Linked DNA regions of Homo sapiens: region 2 is linked to region 1. The links come from fine-mapping of genetic effects on gene expression. A gene starts in region 1. The other region holds a variant in brackets. All regions are shown on one strand. Distances are from middle to middle. Region 1 holds the start of BORCS6 (BLOC-1 related complex subunit 6). Region 2 has its middle 2.2 kb from the start of TRG-GCC2-6.

Region 1 (2,792 bases):
CCCTCCGCCGTGCAACCCATTCCTCCTAGCTGCACGCCGGTTCTGGCTGGGGAAGTGGTATGGTAGAGGGCCAGAGGGCAGAAGCAGAAGGCTCTCCATCAGCAGGGGTGCATCTTTGCCTGCGGGGTGTTTGGCCAAGGACGGCACAAGCTCCCACAGCCCCTGGCACCTGAGATGTGGCCACTGGAGTCAGGATAGCCACAGTGGGGGCTGGGGCTTCCTCTGTCCCTTTCTCCTGATTACATGTGGGAGTCACGTCCTCACCTTCAAGCAGACCTAAAGCCCCGTGTTCCCAGGGCTGGTGCTCTAGCTAGGGAGGAGAGTTGGGAAGAACAGGGTAGCTACAGATGGCCAACTGAATACAAGCAGAGCAACATCCCTTCCCACCAGGAGAGCCGTTAGAACTTCCCCACATACACCAGCCTAAGGCCCAGCGAGTGGGCACGGGCCAGCTGAACGCATCTGGAAGAGCCTCCAACACACAGGCCTCCCCTCAGTGGGCACTTCCCACCAGGACTCCCTGAAGAGTCCTTAGGGTCCTGCTGGGCCCTGCCCTGGCCAGGACCGGCCTCTCCTGTCCTCCTGGTCACTTGCACAGGGCCTCCAACACCTCCAGAGTACGTCGGATATCCCGGACTTGGCGCGCCAGCCCCTGAACCGGCTGCAGAGCCCGCTCCAGCTCCTCGCAGCGCGCCAGCAGGGTGTACATGCCCTTGATGCTCATGTCCACGGCTTCACCTAAGGAGTCCACAGCATCGCGGTAGGTCTGGATGCAACCCACGCTCAGCGCCGTCAGCTCCTGCACCGCGCCACCCAGACCGCGAAGCAGACGGTCCACCCGGCCTCCCAGCTCCCGACTCAACCGCTCCAGATCCCGCAGCACCTCGGGGTCGATTGGGGGAATGGCCGGTGTGGGTGTGGGTGCAGGCGCTGGGCAGGGCCGCGCAGGGGCAGAAGGCGGGGGTGGAGGCGCGCCGCTCAGACGGATCTTGAGTTGCAGGTTGTTGGCGACAAAGTGGGTAAGGTCGCCGTGGCGGCTCACTGTGCCTTCGAGCTCCAGGGGACTGGAGATGGTGGCGCGGCGTCCGCCGCCCGCGCCGGACTCGGCACTCCCTGAGGACCCGGCGCCACCGCACGCCTCGCTCAGCCCGTCCAGGCTGCGGCTGTCCTGAAGACGGCTGGAGAACGAGCGGCCGGCTCTGCTGCCCGCGGCCGCCTCCTCGTCGTTGTCTTCCTCCTCCTGCTGCTCAACATCCATCCCGCCGCCTGGTCCCCCTCGACGGCAGTCCCTCCCGGAGGAGGGCTTGCCCTCGGGCGGCGCCGGGTTCTTGTGCCGGGAGGACAGGGAAGGTTCGTGCTCTGCACCCGGCGCCCCCCTGCGGCTCCCGGCCCCAGACAGCGTCCCTTGAGGGCCGGGCTCGTTCTCCAGAGCCTCCCGTTCCGGCCGGTGGACGACGCCGCAGCTTGACGTCTTCGGGGACGTCCTGGGGTGGCGGTTCGCGCCCCCAACGTTCTCGGTCTCTTCCTCCCCGGACACCCGGAGGCCTGCGGGCGGCTCAGAGGACGTTCGGCCCGGCCCGCCGCCAAAGACTAGGGCCTGATGTTCCGCTACAGCCAGAAGGTCCGTCTCGGGCCCGGGCCGCCCCCGAGACGACTCCATACTGCAGGTGGGGGCCGCAACGGAGGAATTGGTTCGCCCCGGCTCCGGAGGCAGTGGCTGCGCCTTTAAGGGGCGTTGGTAGAGGCGAGCCGATTGGCAGCGGCTGACAATGGTAAGGACAGGAAAAGCATTTTGATTGGTCGCGGCGACCAGGAAGTCCCGGAAGAAGAGCTGTTACTGCACAGCGGAACACACGTGAACGCCGGCAGGGTGGAGAGAAGGAGGTGACAGCTGCTCCCGTCGCCCCGCCCTTTCTGAAAGCTGATGGGGCAGATCTTAAAGACCAAGGTCCTCAAATTCCTGAGTCCCGAGGGGTGGGGCTCAGATCCTTTCTGCCTGTAATTGTACCCCCCCCAACAGTGATTGCTTAGCAAAAATACCAAGTGGGGAGCCCACTTGGGGTTCCTAGAGAGGTTCTTAGGATGAAAATGGCATATCCTTCTTGGACCATCAGGGTTGAACCTAGTTGACTAAAAAGAAGGAAACCAGAAGTCCAGCATGAGCATGAATGGTTTGCTCTATCTTTCTTGGTTAAGAGACCTAACCACTGAACTGCTCAGAGCGACCCACTGTGGTCAAGGCAGCGGCCTCTGGGCTTTCCTATGCGTTTGTCACTCTTGTTCTGTGTCTCTTGCCCCTTTCACACTGAGGGGTCTCGCCCCTTGGAGGATGGCGTGTGATTTTGCCACGAGGTAAAATATTCAACAAATGAAATGATCACAAATTTTGATATGTGCTATACAGGAAATAAAGTGTTATGATTGAGAATATAACTGAGCAGGCACTAGTTTAGGTAAGGGGTCAGGAAAATACCTCTTTGGTGAGACTTTTAACTAAAAAGAACCAAAAAGACGCAGCCACCCCCCAGGCAGAGAGAAGAAAACTTGAGCTACCTCTCAGAGACAAAGAAGTCTTGACGTATTCAAGAAACTGAGGTGAGGGGGCAGGAGACATTGGGACTAAAACAAAATCAGCAAGATAAGGGGAAGGATTTCGAGCCAAGGAGCTGAACAGGCAGCAGGGGCCACGTCATGCAGGGGGCCTTGTAGTTCCTGTTAGGGAATGGAGATTTCCTCTAAATGCAATGGTGCAGCGACATTGGAAAGGTTGTACATTGCAACACATAGCCAAA
Region 2 (2,792 bases), 62 kb before region 1:
AGGTTCCTGCCACCTCCCCTCCCCGCCCCTTCCCGGCCGCTTTGATCCCGCACGCGTCGGCCCGAGGGCGGGCGGGTGGGCGCACAGCCACCTGCGGCGACCACTTGTGAGCGGGGCGGGGCGGGCCGGCTGGGCGGGGCGGCGGGGCTCCCCGCGGTCCGCTCCCTTCCGGCGCGCTCCGCCTCCCACCGCTCGCCTCCTCCTGGCTCTGTCCGCGGTCGCTGCCGGGGCCTGTGGGCTCGGGGCTCAGGTTCGCTGAGTGAATCTGGGTCTCGGCCTTAGTCTATCTGGGTCTCTGTCTCTGGAATTCACCCTGGAGCTGTCCCTCCCGTTTCTTTCAACCTGTTTTATTTGCGCCAGGGTCTGGGTCTCTGTCTCGTCCTCGGATTGTATCTGTGACTGCCAATGCTCTGTTCTTAGCGCTAAGTAGTAACCGTGGCCTCCAGAAGGAAACTGTTAAAAAAAAAAAGTGCATCTATCTATATGCCTGTGTGCGCAGCTGCTGGATTTATTCGGTCAGCCCATATTTATGGGGTGCCTCCTGTGTGCCGAGTACTGTAAGGAGTACATTGGGTCTGGGCTTTCCTGAAGCTTATATTACAGAGGGAAAGACAGACAATAACTACGAAAGCAAAAAATAACATAAGATAGCTTCAGATGGTTATAAGGCTGTGGGAAGAAAACAACAACAACAACAACAAAAAGGTCATGGCGATGACTTGAAAGTGAAGGGCTACTTTACTCTGGGTGGTAAGAGACAGCCTCTATGAAGAAGTGATATTTGATGCCAGCGTAGTCAGCAGCCTTGAGTCCAGGCAAAAGGATCTGCAAGTACAGGCTCTGAGGCAGGAGAGCTATTTGCTGGTGGGAGCTGGAGAAAGAGGTCCGGCGAACTCGGGATGGAGGATTTGCAGAGTGGCAGAGATCAGATTAGAGAGTCAGGCGTAGCCCATCCCACAGGATCTTGGAGAGTATTGAAGGAATTTGGATTATAACGGCAATTGGAAGCCAGTGGGGGATTTTCATCAGCAAAGTTATATTCTCTGACTGATGTTTTAAAAGATCACTTTGGGGCCAGGCGCGGTGGCTCACGCCTGTAATCCCCGCACTTTGGGAGGCCGAGGCAGGTGGATCACCTGAGGTCAGGAGTTCGAGACCAGCCTGCCAACATGGGAAACCCCGTCTGTACTAAAAATACAAAAATTAGCCGGGCGTGGTGGCACACGCCTGTAATCCCAGCTACTCTAGAGGCTGAGGCAGGAGAATCGCTTGAACCCGGGAGGCGGAGTTTGCAGTGAGCCGAGATCGCGCCACTGCACTCCAGCCTGGGTAACAGAGCGAGACTCCGTCTCAAAATAATAATAATAATTAATAAGATCACTTTGGACCGGACGCTGTGGCTCACGCCTGTAATCCCAGCACTTTGGGTGGCTGAGTCAGGCGGATCGCTTGAGCCCAGGAGTTCGAGACCAGCCTGGCCA[AC/A]ATGGCGAAACCCTGTCTCTATTAAAAATACAAAAATTAGCCGGGAGTGATGGCGTGGGCCTGTAATCCCAGCTACTTGGGAGGCTGAGGCAGGAGAATCGCTTGAACCCGGGAGGCGAGGTTGCAGTAAGCCGTAATCGCACCACTGCACTCTCGCCTGGCCAACAGACCCAGACTCTGTCTCAATGAAATAAAAAAGAAAAAAGAAAAAAAAATTAGCCAGGGGTGATGGTCCGCGCCTGAGAGGGGAGGCTGCAGTGAGCCAAGATCGCGCCACTGCTCTACAGCCTGGGCGACAGAGCGAGACTCTAGATAGATAGATAGATAGATAGATAGATAGATAGATAGATAGATAGATAGATAAAATTAAAAGATCGCTTTTGTTGCTATTTGGAGAATGAAGGCAGAGGGCTCATTCAGGGGGCTGAAGCAGTCTTTTAGGCAATGCCTTGAGGTGGTGGTGGGGAGAGAAAACATGAAGGGGTTACTCCTAGGTCTTTGTCTTAGGTAAGATCATGTATTTGCTTAACGTGCGGATATATTCAAAGAAATGCGTTGCTAGGCAATTTCATTATTCAGACATCACAGAGTGTAGTGATGTAAACCTAGATGGTAGAGCCTTCTACACACCTAGGCTACACTATACAGCCTATTGTGCTCCTAGGCTGCAAACCTGTACAGCTACAGCATGGTACTGTACTGAATGCTGGAGGCAATTGTACACAATTGTAAGCATTTGTGTACCTAAAAGGTAACGCATGGCACTACAATGTTATGATAGCTATGCCATCTTTGGGTGATAGGAATTTTTCGGGTTTTTTTTTCCTTTTTGTTTTGAGGCAGAGTCTCACTCAGTTGCCCAGGCTGGAGTGCAGTGGGGCGATCCCGGCTCACTGCAACCTCCGCCTGCCGGGTTCAAGCGATTCTCCTGCCTCAGGCTCCCGAGTAGCTGGGATTACAGGCCTGTGCCACCACACCCCACTAACTTTTGTATTTTTAGTAGAGACGGGGTTTCACCATGTTGCTCAGGCTGGTCTCGATCTCCTGACCTCGTTATCTGCCAGCCTCGGCCTCCCGAAGTGCTTATCACCGAGCCTGGCGATAAGGATTTTTTTTTAGCCCCATTATAATCTTGCTCTTGTTGCCCAGGACGGAGTGCAATGGTGGGATCTCGGCTCACTGCAACCTCTGCCTCCCGGGTTCAAGCGATTCTCCTGCCTCAGCCTCTCGAATAGCTGCTCGAATATCTGGGATTACAGGCATTAGCCACCACGCCCGGCTAATTTTTGTATTTTTAGTAGAAACAGGGT

Evidence for each region.
Region 2: its variant is fine-mapped to the expression of BORCS6 in whole blood (TOPMed, PIP 0.98).

What each region holds. Positions count from the first base shown.
Region 1 is chr17:8,188,481-8,191,272 of GRCh38, forward strand. BORCS6 (BLOC-1 related complex subunit 6) reads right to left here and starts at 1,700. Exons shown (of 1, transcript NM_017622.3): 1 at 1-1,700. The coding sequence starts at 1,660. The coding sequence ends at 587. RefSeq lists enhancers at 867-1,513, 1,492-1,771, 1,514-2,159 and silencers at 952-1,001, 1,072-1,131, 1,332-1,381.
Region 2 is chr17:8,126,518-8,129,309 of GRCh38, forward strand. It overlaps a transcript of HES7 not described here. Among named protein-coding and RNA genes, the nearest start is that of TRG-GCC2-6, 2.2 kb to the left of the region's middle. RefSeq lists enhancers at 1-45, 438-517 and a silencer at 1-187. The variant AC/A (reference allele first, on the strand shown) is at 1,482.